3 linked regions of the Homo sapiens genome follow. The protein of the gene in region 2 interacts with the protein of the main gene of each other region in a pairwise test. Each region holds a gene or a part of one and is shown on either strand. Other genes may lie near its edges.

Region 1 (7,000 bases), on a different chromosome or scaffold from region 2:
CCCAGCTACTCAGAAGGCTGAGGTGAGAGAATCGCTTAAACCCGGGAGGCAGAGGTTGCAATGAGCCAAGATCATGCCACTGCACTCTAGCCTGGGTGACAGAGCAAGACTATTTCTCAAAAAAAAAAAAAAAAAAAAAAAAACAGTAATAGTTTTATCACAGTCACATATTTCTAAACAATGTATAATTTAGTTATGTTTTGTTTTTGATCTTTTAAACAAAGGTACAATATTATATGTGGTTTTATGCCACTTGTTTCTTTCAATGAAATGTTTATTATTCATCTGTATGGTTTTGTGAAACTAATAAAATGAATAAACTTTGTGTGTGTCTGTGTACCAAATTTATTTTTCCATTCTCCTGTGAATGGTTGCTATGAACATTTTTGCTCCTATCTCTTGGAAAGCAGATACATGAGGTGTGTATCACAGAAGTGTAATTACTAGGCCAGTAATATATGTGTTATTTGGCTTTAAAATATAATGCCATACTGTGAAATGCTGGTTTGTAAACCTGAATTGTGTCTTTGTTAGAATGGGCTTTGTTTAGCATTAACAGTAACAATCCAGGCCCTTAAATTATGGTCCTTAGTCTGGTTAGGATCTCTTCACCTTTGATGGTCGGAAAAGCAGGTACTCTTCTTGAAGGTAAGAGAGCAAGAATAAAGCTGGGAAAATTCTTTCAGGCCTAGCTATTATGTAGCACTTGGATTAAGTGCTAGGCATGACTAATCAATCAGGCACACCTTCCTCCTGAACTCCAACTTGGCCTCAGAATCCCTTCCAGCAGGTCCTCCAGGGGGCTACTACCAATCAATGAGAACTAGCATTTAAAAATGAAGTCTATTTGCCATCCTCTTAGGTGTTGTGGTTGGGGGCTGGAAGGGAGTGAAGTACCGTTACCAAGGGGTTGCCTTTTTTGGACACAGTATTTTATGGTAGTTGAGATACCGGGGGTGATGCACGAGTGGGTAAAAGTTGCTCTCTGCCCCTTTAACTCTCCACTCTGAGAGTTTCCAGTTCTCAGGGGGAAAGTGAGTGGGAGCTCTGTGGTACCTTAGCCCAAGTGATCCTCCTAGCTTCTACATAGCATGGGGTCAAACTGGGAATTCGCAATGCTGGGTTTTGTTGTTGTTGTTAAGGAAGAAAATAATAATTCTCTGCAATCTTAACATTTGGAAAAAAAAAAAAAACCCCAGCTATTAACATTCTGGTGTATATCCTCCTTGTTTTCTGATGCAAATACAATGCATATAAAATGTTTTCTTGATTCTGATGAGTTATAGGTGGGGTGGGGGTCCTGGAAGAAATACTACATTATTATTGTTATTATTTTTATTTTTTGAGATGAAATCTTGCTCTGTCAGCCAGGCTGGAGTGTAGTGGTGAGATCTCGGCTCACTGCAACCTCTGCCACCTGGGCTCAAGTGATTCTCCTGCCTCAGCCTCCCGAGTAGCTGGGACTACAGGTGCATGCCACCACACCCAGCTAATTTTTGTATTTTTAGTAGAGACAGGGTTTCACCCTGTTGCCCAGGCTGGTCTCGAACTCCCGGCCTCAAGTGATCTGCCGGCCTTGGCCTCCCAAAGTGCTAGGATTACAGGCGTGAGCCACTGCGCCTGGCAGAAACACTACATTAAATATATGCTTTGATTGTAAGACACAAAATGTCCCTAAATTCTGGATATTAAAATATGGGAAAAGAAGTTTATTTCAGAATGGAGGGAAAATGGGACATACATAATATGCTATATTTATCAATTCCAGAATACATATTTTAACTTCTCTGAAATCATAATGTATCCTAAAATCTATGGCTGATTATGGTTTAATTGGCAGATTTTTTTTGATTTCTTAGTAGTGAATAAAAATGGTGCATTTAATAATTTCAGGTTCAATGTAATTAAGTTGTATACACTTTTTCTCTCAAAAAAGTTGGATTATTTTGTAACCTGTTTTATTTACTTCATAATATGTTGTGAACAACTTTCAAACCATTAATATCCTTCTACACCATTTTAATGGCTGCATAGTATTCTTTTTGTTGACTTGTATATTAATTTAATTAGATGCCATATATTAGTTTTTATTTTCATTTTAGATTTTGGGGGTACATGTGCAGGTTTGCTACATGGGCATATTGTGTGATGCTGAGGTTTGGGCTTCTAATAATCTGCTTGCCCAGGTAGTGAACATGGTACCCTATAGGTAGCTTTTCAATTCTTCACCCTCTCCCTCCCTCTCCCCTTTTGGAATCTCCAGTGTTTATTGTTCACATTTTTGTGTCTATACATACCCAATGTTTATCTCCCACTTCAAAATGAAAACATGTTATTTGGTTTTCTGTTTCTGCATTAATTTGCTTAGGAGAATGGCCTCCAGTTGCACCCATATTGCTGCAAAGGACGTGATTTTGTTCTTTTTTAACAGCTGTGTAGTATTACAGGGTATATATGCACCAGGTTTTCTTTATACAATCCACCATTGATGGGCACCTGGGTTGTTTCCATGTCCTTGCTACTGTGGATAGTGCTGTGATAAACATATGAGTGCAGGTGTGTTTTTGGTAGAATAATTTATTTTCCTTCAGGTAGATATTCAGTAATGGGATTTCTGGGTCGAATGGTAATTCTAGTTTTAGTTTTTTGAGAACTCTCCAGGCTGCTTTCTACAAGGGCTGAACTAATTTGTAGATGCTATGTTTTGGAGATCAAGGGTGTGCTCTTCTTTTTCCTAGTAGATCTTCCCATATATCTCTGATTATGTATTAAAGACAAATTCCTACAAGTATAAATTTTGAATTCAAAATACGTTTTTAAGGCTTTTGATATAGATTTCCAAATTACCTCATCAAAGGAGATCATACATTTTTCTACTAGCAGCACAGGGGTTGTCTCCTCATCCCAATACTGGCCAACACAGAAAACTATTTCACTTTTTCATGTTTGTCAACTTAATCTGTTAAAACTTTTTTTAGTATTGTTTTAACTTGAATTTTTTATTATTAGAGAAGTGAAAGTTTTTTAACATTTGTTCTTTTATGAATTGTTGTTTTCTTTTGATGCCCTCAATTTTTAAGTATATGCATAACTCATTTGTTTATTACTCCTTTATGTCTAGTTCTCCCCTCTATTACCTAGCTCGATGCACATAACAGATGCTCAATAAATACTTGTGGAAAGAATCAGGGAGGGAAGGAAAGAGAGAGAAAGAGAGAGGGAAAGAAGATGGGGTTTCACTATGTTGCCAAGGCTGGTCTCAAACTACTGACCTCAAGAGATTTGCCTGCCTCAGCCTCCAAAAGTGCTGGGATTACAGGCGTGAGCCCCTAGGCACCTGGCCTTTAGTTCCCTTTGCTGCTGTCACAAACTACTGTAACTTCAATGGCTGAAAACAACACAAGTTTATTATCTTATAGTTCTGGAGGTTAGAAGTCTAAAACAGGCTGACACTTCTGTTTCTTTGCTATCTCCATCTACTTGAGGCTGCCCACATTCCTTGGCTCATGGCCCCCTTCCTGAATCTTTAAAGCCAGCAGTGTAACATCTTGTTCCCTGCTGACCTCCTGCCTCCTCTTATAAGGACTTGCAATTACATTAGGCCCACCTAGGAAATTTGGGATACTGTCCTTGTCTCAAGGTCTTTAACTTAATCACTCATGCAAAGTTCCTCTGCCATGTAATGTAATCTATTTATAAGTTCTGGGGATTAAGACATTGACAATTTTTGGGGGGCTATTATTCAGTCTACCCCAACGAAAAAGAATTTTCTAGATTGATCCAATTCATCACAAAATATGTTAAGAAGGAGCAAGGACAGTTAGTGGATTTTTTTTTAAAAGTTCTTTAAATAAAAACTTGAGCAGTCTCTAAATTATTCTGGTTACAAAGTTGAAAGTGACCCGGAGATTATGTATATATAGTGTGTATATAGGGAAAAAGATAGTGGGGAACATGAGAAAAAGTTGAGTATTTGTAAATAAATTACTGTCAACCAGGCTTTTTTTGAAAATGGAACCAGTTATGAGCTTTCTTAGGTGCGGCAGAGCAGGTGGGGTTAGTCAGTGTAATTCTGTGTGAGCATGTGGGAATGGCAGGATCAGCCCTGGCAGACACACAAACACACATGTGGCCTTTAATCTGATAACAGCTGGTGGTTGGTTATTGGGGGATAAATGATGCTATAAATGGAAATAATTTAATAAAAGGATTAGAGAAATTCCGGAACAATTAGTTCAGAAAATGAGTAAGTGCTAAACTATTCAAGTGACAGCCTTAAATGTTTGCATTGGATGTTGAGAATAACCACAGTCGACTTAGAATTCTGCTTTTCATTTGGCACTTTTAGCTGCAGAGGCAAGACATGTCGACATGTTACACAACCTGTTGTGAGCTGTATTGCTAAATATTGCTCAATAATTCTTAAATCCAGAAGTCTGAGAATGATTGCCTTTTAAAGATGGATTAGATCAAATGGCAGGTTGTCCCCATAATGATGCTATCTTTACCCACTCGCATCCCAGGATGTGTTCTGAACATGAATTGAGGGGGGTGCTTCAGCTAGGCCATGGAAATGTATACAGGTCTTAGTAGGGTGTGTGAGCTGTGGCAGAGAAAATCTTGAGAATTGATGTTTTAATAAAAAAAGGGATGTTAAAAATAAATTGACAATCTCCAGGCTTGATCCAAGGAAACAGTACCTTTTAATTCTTTTTTTTTTTTTTTTTTTTTGAGATAGGGTCTCACTCTGTTGGTCAAGCTGGAGTGTCATGGCACAATCATGGCTCATTGCAGCCTCTACCTGCTGGGCCCAAGCCATCCTCCCACCTCAGTCTCTGGAGTAGCTGGGACTACAGGTGCCTGCCACCATGGCTGGCTACTTTTTATTTTTGTTTTTTGTAGAGGCAGTGGTCTCACTATTTTGCCCAAGCTGGTCTCAAACTCCTGGGCTCAAGTGATCCTCCTGCCTCAGCCTCCCAAAGTTCTGGGATTACAGGTGTAAGCCACTACCCCAGCCCCCACTGACTTCTTATGTCAAGGTATTTAATAGTCAGTGCAAACATGAATCTCATGATCTCATCCAACGGCTAACTCTGTCTCCTATATGTACACCCCCACACCGACACATTTGCCTATCAGTGCCTCTTTCTGGAAGACCTCAACCTTCTCTGAGTACAAACTCAGCCTATCTCTCGAGGTCAGAACAATGCCTCCTCATCTCGTAGGTGATGCCTTTCTAGATTGCCTCTCCTACCTCAGTTGAAGTAGTCTCTCTTCCTCGAAACTTACAGCAAGTTACCATGCTTGTGGAATGTGGGTCCTGCCTTGTTTATATGTGTTTATGTCCCATCCCAGCCTGGGGACTGCTTGAAGGCAAAGTCGGTATTTCCTTTATCTTTTTTGTTTTTGAGACAGAGTCTCGCTCTGTCGCCCAGGCTGGAGTGCAGTGGCGTGATTTCGGCTCACCGCAAGCTCCGCCTCCTGGGTTCACGCGATTCTCCTGCCTCAGCTTCCCGAGTAGCTGGGACTACAGGCGCCCGCCACCACGCCCAGCTAATTGTTTTTTGTTTGTTTGTTTTTAGTAGAGACGGGGTTTCGCCGTGTTGGCCAGGATGTTCTCGATCTTCTGACTTTGTGATCCGCCTGCCTCGGCCTCCCAAAGTGCTGGGATTACAGACGTGAGCCACCGCGCCCCGCCTTCCTTTATCTTTTAAGGCCCTCTATTACCTAGCTCAATGCACATAACAGATTCTCAATAAATACTTGCAGAATGAAGCAGGGAGGGAAGGAAAGACAGAGGGAAAGAAGAAAAGAAGAAGGAATGAGAAAAAGAATTTAAAATATTGTGAAGTTATCTGGGTACTTGAGGGATGGGATGTTCTTTAAGACACCTACCCCAGGCTGGGCACAGCAGGCTTACGCCTGTAATCCCAGCATTTTGGGAAGCTGAGGCAGGCGGATCGCTTGAGCTCAAGAGTTTGAGACCAGCCTGGGCAACATAATGAAATTCCATCTCTACAAAAAAATAAAAATAAAAACAAGCCAAGCGTGGTGGCATGTGCCTGTAGTCCCAGCTACTTGGGAGGCTAAGGTGGGAGGGTCGCTTAGGCCCAGGAGTTTGAGGCTGCAATAAGCAGTGATTATGCCATTGCATTCCAGCCTGGAGGACAGAGAAAGACCCTGTCTCAAAAAAAAAAAAAAAAAGACACTTCCCTCTAATTTTTGAGGAGAGACCTTCTGGCAGGCTGGGAGTTTGTAAGCATCCCTGAAAGACAGAACGGTTGAACTGTTGGTCCTGTCCTCTCTGGCTGAGTTTTTGGAGGGCTTGCCCACCATGCAGGCACCTTGTCTTTGCATTTATCTGTCCGTGAGCAACTATTTCCATACAAGGAGCTGAGCAGCAGCTGCCCTTCCAGCCCTCTTCACTCTGACAGATCACAGAGTCCAGCAGGGCTGCAGAGCAGAGTGAGAGGGGACCAGCTGCTGGAGCAGGGCACATTCAAGGCTGCAGGCCAAGCAGGTGGGCCTTGTAGCTGCATCCGCCCGCCTTCTGTGCTGGGAGCAGCGTCCGGCGTCAGGGACCCTTAAGAGAATAATATCCCTGTGAGGATAATGATCTCGGCCAGTCTAAAGGGTTGCTGTGAAGATTTTTAAAAAAACGAATCACTAAAAACATCTCTTTGAAATGGCAAAGTGCTGTGTAAGTGGGAGTTGATACCTTCTTGTGTGAATAGGAATGTAAGACTCGGGAGAAACGAGACTTGCTGAAGGTCACCCAGCTAAGACTGCCTGGGACAAATGCTCTTTCTCGGAATCCAAAAAGTGGCTTTAGGACTTCATGTTATTTGGACACTCTCCTGCACTAGGGGCAGTAAGGCAGGGGAGGGGTGGGCATTTCTTTTTTTTTTTTTTTTTTTGAGACGGAGTCTCACATTGTCACCCAGGCTAGAGTGCCGTGGCGTGATCTCGGCTCACTGCAAGCTCCGCCTCCCAGGTTCAA
Region 2 (7,115 bases):
CAGAAAAAATCTAGATTTGGGACCAAATGACTTGGGTTTAAAGTCTCATTTCACTTCTCACCTGGTTTGTTTTCTTAGGCAAATTATGCTGAGCTTCAGTTTCTTTATCTGTATTCTGAGAATAACACTGGACCTATCAACCTACCCCACGGAAATCACACAGGAACCAAGAGGCAATGGTTTACAACTGATACCAGGGGATCTTCATGGTACCACTACAACACTCCCCATACCTCTCTCACCACACCCCTAAACCTCCCTCTCCTATACCTCCTCCCTCCACATCCCTATGCCCCTCCCTCCACATCCTAATGCCCCTCCCTCCACATCCCTATGCCCCTCCCTCCACCCACTCAAGGAAGCCAGCCTTTTAACTGATCTATGTATTGGAGAACCATGTAAGAGTCTGTTTGGAAAAAGCACTCTGCTAAAAACAAACAAACAAACAAACAAAAAAAACCAAGTTCGAAAAAGCTACACTATACAATAGCAGTTTCCTCTCATAAAAAACTTGAAAAATTCATCAAAGACATTGTACAATTACTCTAACATTTAATAAAGTACCTCTGGTTTTTCATGCCAAAAAGTATCCATTAGGTATACATAAAACTACTTCAATAATGACTGCTGACTAATCAAACTGATTCAACTAAAGAATACTTGAGACATTTATAGTGAAATTAATGAGTGAAATTTATTCTAAAGAAATTCCCACAGATTCAAAATAATTATGTTATGATTACAGAATTACTAGTAAGTCCCAGAACTGCTGCCAGAAACACAATTATAGCTGTATTTAATACAAAGAACACTTTAAAACAGCTTTGGATATTAGGAAGATTATGTTTAAAAAATACAAGCCTCTGCATTGTCTGAGAGGCAGGTGACAGCAGTGCTGTAAACAGACATTCTTGGTTGAGCAAGTTTCAGCTTGGCAGTGTTCCAAAAAAGAAAAAGGGGAGGAAAAAAAAGACTGCACGATAGACACATATTAAGAAGTTTGTTTTGTTTTACCATCCTAGAGGGTTGAGTGAATACAAAATAAAAAGGTTCTCTCAGATATGGTAACAGATTAGCCTCTGCTCCAGAGAAACAAAATAGTGGATGGAAATTCATGCTAGTTTTGTTCTAACTGCATCACAGATTTTCAAAATCATCTCTAGATTTCATGAGCAGTCGCTACTATGTGCTGGACTTACATTTATTTAGTTTTTATCTCAGCATCTCCAATGTGGACATTCTTTAAAGTTTATTTACTCTGTTGGATTTGCAGTAGAAACTTTAGGAGGACAGCCAAAGGAGTACCATTTAAACCAACGATCCCAAACCAAAGAATGAGTAGGAACCTGCTGGCATGCAATTATACTGAACTACCAAGAGAACAGGAAACATGCAAGAATCGGGCTTCACTAAGTCCTTCCTTTCCTCTTATGCTTGTGTTTATTTGTAGAATATTAAATGCAGGAAAAATCCTAGACAGATAGAAGCCTAGCCAGCTCAGGCTCCTTGTTTAGAAAACTGCCATAACTTCCTTAGCCAGATGTAATTTATATGGATGAATATAAATTACATGCAAAATTCTGTTTTGACAGTTCCTTAATGTATGCACCCTCAATAACACAGTACCATGCAATGATGGATTTAAAATCAGAGATACTTTAGAAGAAATACAGATGGATCAGAAAATGACAAAGGTCTCTAGGTACACACATAGTCTACAGCAATGATCCATGAAAGAGGCATCTGTCTATTACACACAGGATACAATATACTTGGGCTTCAACTAGCCCCCTGAGCCTCCAGCTCTACCACTCGGCACTTGATTTTCATGCTCCAACATTTCCCTGTATGAATAAGTGAGTTACTAATTCACACAAGCGTCTTCTAAGTATTAGTATGTCTAGAGACTGACAACTACAAATGTGCATCTCAAGGTCATTATACTAACCAACAACTCTGCTCCTGCTTTCCAATAACACTCAAGTCCCAAACTGAACTTTGGCTAGGTCCCACTCTCAATCCTTTCCCTTCCCCAAATTTCTCTTCGTAACATCACTATCCACACCACTGCTTAAGCCAAAGCTTTGAATGATTCTCTCCCCTTCCATACGCCCCAAACCCTCCCTATCACCTCGCAAGCAATCCAGAGGCAAGTATCATCAATTTTACTTCTACAATACGCCTCAAATCCATCCACTTTTTTCCTTCTTCAGCAGAACCATTCTGGTTCAATTCATCATCATCTTATGCCTAGAAGTCTCTTAACTGTTCTGTTCTCATCTATTTTTGCTGCCTCACAATCAGTTCACCAGGTAACAGTCATACGAATCTTTTTAACATAGGTCATGTCATTCCCTTGACTTAAAAGCCTTTATGACTCTCAACTGCATTGTGAATAAAACCCATTTCTTTACTAAGCCTTTTGAGGTCCTACACAATTTGGTCACTGACTGCCTGCCTCTGTAATCATATAGTGGGCTACCCTCCTCCTCGCTGACCCCATTCCAGCCAGGCTGGCCTTCCTACAGTTACTGGAATGTCCCAGGACGACTCTTCCCTAGGATCTTTATCCATGCCTCTGCGCTAGCATTCTTTATATAGACAGTTTTTTCCATCCTTCAGGTCTCAGTGACGTGGCACCTTCTATGAAAGGCTTTCCCTGACCATCCATGCTAAAGTGAAGCCCCCATTTTAATATTTTCACAACAACCTGTTCTTTCTCTTAACAGTTTTTTAATAATTTGTAACTATATATTTACTTATCTAGCACCCTTTTTGGTATGCAGTAGGCATCTTTTTAACTGAATGAATTAATGAGGACAAGTACTTTAGGCGAGGCTAATCACAAACATATCCTACTAGCTGGTATAAGATGCAATAACAAAGATATTACCTTCTCAACTTTTTTCCTTTTAACAGGCGGGTCAAATCTATCATTGACTCCAAAATACTGAGTAAGCTCTTTCCACTGGGTTTCATTTGAGGACGGTTCACTAAAAGAAGATAGTAAGTTTTGTTTTATACAATATATACTGTCTTTACTTTTACTGTTTTTAATCGGTTACTACAATTATACTACAATTACTAGTTCATATGTTTGATTACTATCAGAAACAATTAGTTCAACAATTTCTACAATGGCCTAAAATAGATAACTATTTTAAATTCTACCTACCTATGTAATTCTTTTTCATTCTTCAATTTATCTGAAAAGAATTCACAAAGTGTCAATACCTAACTTCAGTAATTTCAAAACCATATTTTAAAAAAATGGTTAAACTCAGTCACAACTTAGCATTAGCACGACGAACAACCTGAGTTAAAACAAAACACCTTTTCTGGAGCGTTTTCTTCTTTTCCCTCTGAATCTTGAGGTTGTGCTTTTCTGTTCAGAATGTTTTTTATGCAATTCTTGAAATTTCTATGTAAAAGAAAAAAAAATTGAGAAGCAAATATACTTTCCAGAAAAACATGCATTTAAAAAATAATGAAGTAATAAAACAATTATATTTCAGCGTGTATAAAGATACCAATTTAATGATGGTAGTCAGTTCTTGAGATGCTCTATTCTCTGAGACTCACAACCTGAGTTTTGATATTCACTTGTTTTGAAATAAGTCATTTGATAATTTGAGAGTGAAGCTCATGTAGGTAACAAAAAAGATAAATAAAAGGTTAAATAAAGACAGAAACTACTCATGTACCACGCTAGGCAAACAGCTAATACTACATAGTGGTTTGGGTTTTTTTTTTTTCCCCCTCCGTCTTTCTATGAAAAACAAAACAAAATAAACGCAAGTATCTAAGTGGCCGATGCCTCAGAGAACAGTAAAAGCATTCTGAGTCCATCTCCCTCCCTGTTAAGTCCCAAGAATACATGCACATTCTGACCAGGGCAGAGACACACAGAGGCATGTGCACACACACAGGCTGTAGCAAGAGCATTTCAGAGAAAACCTACATTCCACATATCTATGGGAATTCCAGAAGGACACTCTTCATAGGCATTTACATTTGACTCTGTTTCAGTTTTTGGTTCATCTGTTGAGAAATCTATGATTTCTGTTTTTCTGATGCTCTCATCCTCTTTATCTTCCTGTAAGTTAAGTCCAGAGTTCTCCAACGTAGCTTCATCTTCCGAGTTTGACTCAGCGTCACTTTCATTTAGGCCAGGAGGTAGCAGCCCACTCCACATCTTTTCTTCTATGAGGAAAAAGATTAATTTACACATGTAGAATAACCATAGAAATAATTTTAAGACCATTAGAAGACATTCCAGGTGCCTAATAATTATAACAATGGTTTGGGAACAGTCCATCTAAACTTTTTTTTTTTAATCTAAAATGGCATAGAATGAACCTGTTATAAAATAATTAAAATCTTCACTTGTGTAAGTAAAAAAAAAGTTTAGAAGTTTAAAAGCTGTTTAAACAAGTTTGTTACAACATACACCTACAGGTAAAGAAAATAGAGCCTTGATTCTCTAATATATGAGTAGTTTTGTCTAAAAAAAACATGAAATTCAGTAAAGCATTGCTCAAGAATGTTAAAAACCTAACAACATACTTTGCAAGCAATTTAGGATTAAAATACCATATTTGAAGCTATACCAATTAGAGAATAAAACTGCATGTTTCACCTATATTTAATGGACAAAGCTTTCAGAGGGCGTCTTGTCTAAGGAGCAGGAAAATAACTAAAGGAAAATTTTTAAGCTACATAAGTAGTTGGAGGAAGGTATCGTAGTAAAAAGGATATCCTACTTTTTAGTTTAATACTGTTTGCTAAAATAATATTAAATGAAATATAATCCTAACAATTTAACAAAAATGTACAGCTTTTTAAAGTAACAATACTATATTTGGGAAACTAATGGTCAAGTTCAAGATAATATTTAGCATTAGCTATACAGTCCATTAGTAGAGAGAACCATTAAGTTTAATAAAATGACTTAAAATAGCAGAATTGTTATCATTTGCTAAAAGTATAATACTCAAGTACATACTCACTATTGATCTTCATGGCACAGTCTATTTTAGCACATATATTGAGCCAAAACCAGTTCCTTCAAAAGATGCTTAAAATAGAGAAGCCGGTTGTACTGCTCATGATTTACTATCAATATGAAGGAATAAAATGGAAGGACGGAAATTTGTTTTGCAGTTTTCTGTCCCATATTGTGATTAACCTAGTTAAAAAACAAACAAACAAACAAAAGAAACCACCATTCTCTCTGAGACAAACACATCAGGGATTTTGTGATAACAGATTTCTCTTATCTTTTAAAGACCTCCTTCCAGGTCCAAAGAATCAGATCTTACTTTTTGTGGCTTTGGTCCAGCCTCATCAGTTGCTGGCTCTCTGAAATATCCTCACCAAATATTCTGTTGGCTTTTTATGAGGAAGGACTCTGGCATCTAACTGCTCCAACTAGAATCTTAACTCTGACACTACTAGTAGTATGAGGAAATCATTTGACATCTCTGACCCTCAATTTCTTTATCTGTAATGCAGGGATAATTATACTGCTTATAGGGCTATTCTGAGGATTAAATGAGATAAGCCCCTCAACACAGTGTTTAGGAGGTCCTAGGGGCTCAATAAATGTTAAGTTCTCTTTGCTATTATTATTTCTGTGGCCATGTATTACATTTTTATCATTTCTATTATGAGTGACAGGGTTCATAAGATAGTTTTGAAGTTTCTAATAATTGTGGTGCACTCACTTAGCAACTGATGCAATCATTTGCTTCCTTGATAGTCACAATCTGATGTGAAGTGTCTATAACAAATGTTAGTGTTTGGTTTTCTGAATGGAGGAATAAAATGAGGGCAAATTACTAGGAAGATAATGGTAACCTTAAGCTCCAAGATTCCTCATCTGCACAGGTCCTTCCAAAGCACTGTACCTAGTTTTCTATTCAGAATTTACATTTCTTTGTTTAAAGGAAGAAACCCGAAGTTATATAAGCTCCAGGCCCCATAAAACCCAGATCTATCCCTAAACCTGTCTGTGGATTTTTAAAGTTGGGACAGCAGTACTCTTGAAATACTCCAATAGCACAAAAGACATCATGTAAAATATGCCAATATTGAAAAACAGGTGTCATGCTATTAATAAAAAAGATTTCTCCTGTTCTGAGAGCAAGGGGAAGGAAGCAGTAATAAGTTCCAGTATGACTTGGCCACCGCCATATAATATACCTTTAGGCTCATTATCATTTAAGGACTTAAAACAGTAACAAATTTCAGGTTTGGATTTCTTAGCATCACTGGAGTCTATGTTAGAAATAACTCTTTCCCTTCCTGTCCATAAAATATTTTACATGCCCACTTATGTGCCAGACACTCTTCAAGACCCTGGGGACAGAAGTATATAAAACAGGCAAAAATCCCTAGCCTCACGAAATGACAGCTATACACATAGCAAGTTTCTGCTCAGTTTTTGAGCCAAGTATTCCTTGACCTGGACTTTAGATGTGACTGCTCATGAAACGTGTATGCCTCTCCAATGGGCAGTGGCACAGGTCTCCTACTAAACCACTGTTTTAGCATCTCTGCAGGGTGATAGTCTATGCTCTGGGCACCCAAACATGCTTCCCTCTGGGAAGCAGTCTCAGTTGCCCCGAAGAAGGCATGCTTTTTGCTGTTGTTGTTGCTAATCAGCCTTCAAGTAGTTAGGCATTTTTTATGGCTTTTTAAATTTTCTCAAAATTATATATTTTTAGCTCCTGCTCATGTGGCATTAAAAACTGTCCTCAGTGTGGCATCTGCCTGGTATGATAATTTCTTGAGTGTACCCAAAGGAAAAAAAATTAAAATAGTTTGAAAAAGGTGGAATCCACCTCTAAATCCAGGCAAAATTCAAATCAGGTAGGTTTTGAATTCCACTCTTTAGAACCTTTAGTCATGTGCCATTTTCCTGTGACTCTCAAAAAAACAAATACAAGGGAGACTGAGCAGTCACTGATAAACACGGATAACTGCTGCCACTTACTGTGCAGCCTGCAAAATGGAGTTGCCCGTGTAAGCAGCAGCCCAGTTACAGATCAGCCAATATGGAGTGGCTGCTTAGTGACTTTTGCTTTGGACTCATGTTTCAAAACAGTCTTTCT
Region 3 (6,298 bases), on a different chromosome or scaffold from region 2:
GAGGGGAAGTTTGAGTGCAAAGGGAACATGCCTTAGTAATATCTCTGAGATGGGCAACCATGGTGGAAGAATGTCTAGAAGTTTTTAAAAGCTGGAGTAGGGGCAGTAACCGGCATGGAAATGGTTGTGCACATATGAAAGTACAGAAGGTTTTTTAAACTTGGGCAAGACACTTTATCAGTGAGATCGAACTATTTTTTCCTGAATGGCACCAGCCTGGGCAAGTGGGTTTTTTTCCTGCTGGGTATATACAGGGTGTATGCTGGGAAAAAAAATGAGCAATAACGATGGGGTTTTAAGGGCTGCCTGCCAGGCTGCCGAATTTGTTGAAAGGTTTTTCTCGGTTTTGGCATCTGTAGCCTTTCGGTGTCCCTTGCAATGGATAATGGTGGCCTTTGGTGGTGGTTTATCCACCCCCAACAGCTTATGTGTAAGTTTGCCATTTCTTATGGGGGTTCCTTTTGTAGTTAGGAAACCCTGTTCCTGCCAGATGAAGGCATGAGACTGTAGGACATGGTATGCATATTTGGAATGGGTGTAAATGTTGACCCTCTTTCCCTTTGCTAGGGTGAGGGCCCTGGTTAGGGCAACTAGCTTTGCCTGTTGAGAGGTAGCATGGGGTGTGAGAGCATTCGATTCTAGGAGTTTATCTTCAGCACTGATGGAATAGCCAGCTGCTGGACATGGCTGCCTAAAAGAGGTTCCATTAACTAACCGTGTATGTGTTCCCTGCAAAGGGGCATCTGAAATGTGTTGGAAGGGGGAGGAGAGGGAGTCTAAGAGGTCCAGACAGGAGTGAGAGAGCTTAGAGTCGGAAGTGTTTACAGGGAGAAGGGTGGCTGGGTAGAGAATTTTATGTCTCTGGAAGGTGATTAGAGGGTTACCTATGAATAAGGCATGCACCTGCTGTAAGCAGGATGGTGGGAGGGATAGAAGGGATTGGTGGTTTATGAGGTCCTGTAGATAATGGGAAGATGCAATAGTAATGTGTTGGTAGAGAGGGAGTTTCCGTGCATCTAAGGCCAGCAATGTGGCCATACCCAAGATTTTTAGTCAGAGTGACCAGCCTCGGATGACAGAGTCCAGTTGTTTTGAGAGGCGTGCAATGGCTTCTGGGGCGTTGCCATATGTTTGGCAGAGTAGTCCAAGGGCAAGGCGCTGGTCAGAATGTACATAGAAAGTAACAGGCTTGGTGAGGTTTGGCAGTCCCAGTGCCAGGGCCATTAAAAGGGCATTTTTAAGTTTTTAAGTTGGAGTTGATGGGGCAAGCTGGGTTCAGGGGTTTTAGGATGGGCCCATGTGAGGCTACGTATAGTGGCTTGGCCAGCAAGTCAAAGTTAGGAATTCACAGCCAGAAGTATCCCACAAGGCCCAAGAAGGAGGGGAGGTCCTTTTTTTTTATGTGGGGAAGGGGCATGTCCCAAATTGGCTCCTTTCATTGGGTTGGGATGGCTCGAGAATTAGGGGTTAGAACAAACCCAAGGTAAGTAACTTTGATTTGGGTACCTGAGATTTTGTGGGTTAGGCCCAATATACTTGATTATGAAGGAAGTTTAAAACCTGAGTGGTGTGTTGAATGGACAGGTTAAGAAAGGGGCTACAGAGAAGGAGGTCATTGACATACTGGAGGAGGGTACTAGGAGCAAGGGGAAGTTCAGCTAGGTCCTTGATGAGGGCCTGTCTGAACAGGTGGGGCCTATCCCGGAACCCCTCTAAGAGTACAGTCTAGGTGTAAGTCCATGTGTAAGTCCTGTAAGAGTACAGGACATGTGAGTATTAGGATTTGACCAAGTCAAAGCAAAAAGACTTTGGTAAGCCAGATTTAAGGGAATAGTGAAATAGTTGTCTTTTAGTTCAATACAAAGGAGTGTGTGGTAGATGGGGCAATACGGTAGAGTAGAGTATATTGGTTGAGGACCACTAGATGGATTGGTACCACGGCCTGGTTAACGACTTGGAGATCCTAGACAAAGGGGTAAGTCCCGTCTGTCTTTTGGAAAGCCAGAATAGGGGTGTTGTGGGGAGAGTTAACAGGCTTGAGAATATGAGCTTGTAAAAGTTTACAGATAATAGGTTTGAGACCCCCTAAGCAAGGCTGGATTAAGGGGATATTGAGACTGATGAAGGAAAATGGAGGGGTTTTGAAGGGTTATTTTAACTGGGATGTGATGTGTGGCTATTGTGGGTTTAGAAACATTCCAAGCTTTAGAATTAACAGAAGGTAACAGGGTGGATAATGAGGATGAGTGGGGGGAGAGGGAAGCGTTTGGGTGTCAGAGTAAAATAAAAGGGGTAGAATTGTAGGAGCCACATTGCATGGAGTTCTGGAATTTACTTAATATGTCCCATCCCAAGATAGGGGTAGGGGACTGAGGGATAACCAGGAAAGAGTGGGTGAAGGGGGCTGCTGAATAGGTTGTATAATAAAGGACCAGTCTGTGCCTAGAGGGGATTTTATTGATTCTCACAATAGAGATCGAAGAACAGAAAAAGGGTCTAGAATATTCTGGTCAAACTGAGTAACTAGTTGTCCTATTGAGTATCCAATAGGAAAGACATGGGCTTACTAGAGACTGACAGAATTACCCTGGGTTCCGAGGTGGTGATGGCAGTAGGGGCGGTGGACTCCAGGCCCCACCTGTCTTCAGGTACAGGTGGTGAAGCAGGATGAAGAGTTTCAGTGAGCACAGTCTGACTTCCAGTGTTGCTTGATACCACAGATGGGGCAAGATTTCCAGAGTGTCCTGGGATTAGGCTAGGCTTTTGCCCAGTGTCCCTGTTAGACGAACTTGTAACAGGCTCCTGGAGTTGACTGTTGCCAAGTTGAGGAATTCTGTAGGCCTTGGGAACCCTGTTGAGTGGCAGCTACCAGCATTTGGTATTTAGCCTGGTCCTTCTTTAGGTTTGGATTTTTTAGTTCTTCCTCTCTAATCTTATAGATCTTGAAGGCCACTTTGATTAAGTCTCTTTGGAAGGTTTGAGGGCCACCCTCCAGTTTTTTAAGTTTTTTTCAAATGTCTGGGTCTGACTGGGAGATAAAGTATAAATGGAGGTAGTTTTTGCCCTTATTGGTATTAGGGCTTAAGGTGGCATATTTAGTTGTGACTTTTGAAAGGCAGGAGAGGAAACGAGCAGGGACAGCTTTATTTATGCCAGCTAGAAGGCATGATATCATATGGCCTGATTTCTGTCTGTCTACTGAAGTTGCCTGATAATTCCAACTGGGGCCAGTTCTGGGGACAGCTAGGGTCCCTATTGGATTATGAGCAGCATCTTGTTGGTGGAGGGTGTTCTCATGGACCTGGGCACCCATAAAGATGTGTTCCCTGTCCTCCAGGGTGAGGGTAGAGGAGAGGATGACATATATGTCATGCCAGGTAAGGTCATAAGATTTAGGGAAGTACAAGAATTCCTTGTGGAAGGAGGTTGGATCCATTGAAAAGGAGTCAAGTCTCCTTTCAATATGGGAAAACTCAGCTAGAGAGAAGGGAACTTGAATTCAGATTATGCCTTTAGCCCTCGCAACCTCCTGCAAGGGAAGGACTTTGGAAGGCCTTTGGGCATGTGCCTGGTTCCTAGCGAAAGGGGGTTGGGTGTGAGACCTGGTTTGAGGTGGAGAAGGAAGGGGGATGGAGGGCGACAGTAAGGGGGTGGAGGAGCCGGATCCGAAGGAGAAGGTGGAGGGAATGGGAGAGGGCAGGAGGCTGAAGAACGGGTGTGTTGGCCAGGTTGAAATTCAGAGGAAGAAGACTTGTCCGGAGGAAGAGGCATTTTGGGGGGTTTCTCCTTGAGGAGGAAGATTTGAAAAGGTGAACAAGATTGGCAGAGAGAGAGAGAGAGAGAGAGAGAGAGAGAGAGAGTGAGGCATGAAAGGAGATAAGCAAAGCACTTCAGATTATTTACCATTGCATTGAAGAAAGTTTTTTAGATTATGTTGAATTTGGAAGTTGAATGTTTTGTTTTTTGGAAGAGGGGAGTGAATACTCTGGATGGGAGTGACTACCCCTGAGGAAAGTGAGTACCCTGGAAGGGAGTGAGTACCCCAGGGGTGAGCGAGTACTCCAGAGAGAAGTGAATACCCCATAGGGAAGTGAGTACTTGATTCCTCCTGGGAGAAGGGACCTGGAGAGTTGGGGCAGCCCCGTACTATTCATGCTCCCCAGAGGCCAGAGCAGCCAGAGTGGCAAACGTTTTGAAGGTGTACCCTAAGAAGGGAGGCTGCAGTCACCTGGTGACTGGGGAGACCTCTCACCCAGCACTGGAATTTTTTGGAGAACGGGCAGAAATAGAGAGGAATCTGGAAAGGAGGAAGAGGGAGACTCACCCACTAATTGAAGCCCAGTGTTGGATGTGATGTCCAGAAATGGGGGTGATCCTTGTTGCAGCTGCCCGGAAACAGGAAGGAACAAAAAATAAGGTGGCTTGTTTGATCACTATCTGGAGGTTAGCCCAGGTCTGGAGAAGACTAGAGAATAAGGAGAATGGGACTGGGAACAGGGAGTACACTCAGGATCTGGAAGCAGGCCCTGGTCTAGTTTGTGCTGCTTGCTGCTTTCCAGGTTGCAAGAGAAAACTTACCCATTAGAACCCAATCACCACTCCAGGTTTTGGCACCAAAATGTTAGGTTTTGAAGGGAAGGCAAGGATGAAAGAAAGACACACAGGGGGCAGCTCAAACAGCAACACAGGAATATGGCAGACACCTATGGAAGTGGAGGACAAGCTTAATGCCAGAGCCCACCGCCGCTTACAGGCTGGGGTACTTACAGGGATGGGCAGGAGGGATCTGGGCAATGTGGGATGCTATCCGGCAGGATATTGATAAGATGTTCTTATGATCAGGTGGTTTGGCCCTTTTTCCAGTGGAATATCATTGTGGCGTTCCTTAGAACTTTGCCAAGCAAGATATGATAGGAATGTTTCTTTAGTTGGGCCTTTGTCCGCCCTGTGGTCAGGTGGTTAGGCAGGATGTTTCTCACGGCCTGAGCCCCCATGGAGTGTCTCACTTTGACCAAGGTCTGCAAAATAGCAAAGAACTTGCGAAATCGTGCAGTTTGGACTAACAGATGACCCTACCCATGCTCCTCTTCTTCTTCCCCATAGATCACTACCCTATGATTCCACCTTGTTCTTCTCTGGCACAAACCCCTTCCTCAACCTGCATTCCTTCTCATAAAGCCCCCCTTGCTATCCAGTCTCTACCCTATTCACCCAAAATAATGACTTTCTGGCCTCTCCCTGTTTTCTTATCAGATGCAGGAGGCACCGAACAGGGTCTTAGCCCCCAAACAGAGCTTGCAAAAGACAAAAACAATAGAATATCTAACAATAATAGTGTATTACTACAGGAAGCATACGAAAATAAATTCAAATCAACTGGAGAAGGACCAGTCCCGAGAGAACTCCATCAATCCAGTCCAAGAGGAGGAGGACGAAGGCCTAGACTCAGCTGAAGGATCTTCACAGGAGGACGAAGACCTGGACTCATCTGAAGGATCTTCACAGGAGGACGAAGACCTGGACTCATCTGAAGGATCTTCACAGGAGGACGAAGACCTGGACTCATCTGAAGGATCTTCACAGGAGGACGAAGACCTGGACTCATCTGAAGGATCTTCACAGGAGGACGAAGACCTGGACCCACCTGAAGGATCTTCACAGGAGGACGAAGACCTAGACTCATCTGAAGGATCTTCACAGGAGGGTGGGGAGGACTAGTCAAACATGGAGAAACCAAATTGGACAAATCCTCACTACCAATGGCGATGATTACAATAAAATCAAGTTTGAGGAGCTGATGACCGTGTATATCTCTGCCTGTTGTCTGATGGTGGGAAGGAAGGGAAGGGAAGAGGTAGGCATTTGAGAAGGGAAGGATATGAGATCCTGTAGGGTTGGCGGACAGACCCACAGGTTGACAGTTTCCCAGACATTGTAAATAAGGCCTGGGGGAGGACTTATTCCTAGAGACAAATTTTCTTCTTAAAATTTTATCTAACAGGAGAGGAAGAAAAGGACTTGGTGTTTGGAGCATGTGAATATGTAGAAGGGCATTTAAAAAGATCTGTATTGGCCGGGCACGGTGGCTCATGCCTATAATCCCAGCACTTTGGGAGGCCGAAGCAGACGATCTCCTGAGGTCAGGAGTTCGAGACCAGCCTGTCCAACATGGCAAACCCCAGTCTCTACTAAAAAAAAAAAATACAAAAATTAGCTGGGAGTGGTGGCAGGTGCCTGTAATCCCAGCTACATGCGAGGCTGAGGCAGGAGAATCACTTGAACACAGGAGGCGGAAGTT

The links. The genes of interacting proteins can lie anywhere in the genome.
Region 1: the proteins of FAM204A (region 2) and SMYD1 interact in binary tests that used the Homo sapiens proteins (3 or more experiments, as listed by UniProt).
Region 3: the proteins of FAM204A (region 2) and SPANXN2 interact in binary tests that used the Homo sapiens proteins (3 or more experiments, as listed by UniProt).

What each region holds. Positions count from the first base shown.
Region 1 is NC_000002.12:88,070,825-88,077,824, forward strand, and holds part of SMYD1 (histone-lysine N-methyltransferase SMYD1), read left to right. Parts: intron 1-7,000. UniProt on the Homo sapiens protein: Methylates histone H3 at 'Lys-4' (H3K4me), seems able to perform both mono-, di-, and trimethylation. Acts as a transcriptional repressor. Essential for cardiomyocyte differentiation and cardiac morphogenesis.
Region 2 is NC_000010.11:118,332,221-118,339,335, forward strand, and holds part of FAM204A (protein FAM204A), read right to left. Parts: intron 5,189-7,115; exon of another isoform or gene 5,023-5,188; coding exon of another isoform or gene 5,010-5,022; exon of another isoform or gene 5,006-5,009; intron 4,204-5,005; coding exon of another isoform or gene 4,196-4,203; coding exon 3,962-4,195; intron 3,422-3,961; coding exon 3,334-3,421; intron 3,207-3,333; coding exon 3,176-3,206; intron 2,994-3,175; coding exon 2,894-2,993; intron 1-2,893.
Region 3 is NC_000023.11:143,711,455-143,717,752, reverse strand, and holds the end of SPANXN2 (sperm protein associated with the nucleus on the X chromosome N2), read left to right. Parts: intron 1-5,253; coding exon 5,254-5,718; 3' UTR 5,719-5,798; downstream 5,799-6,298.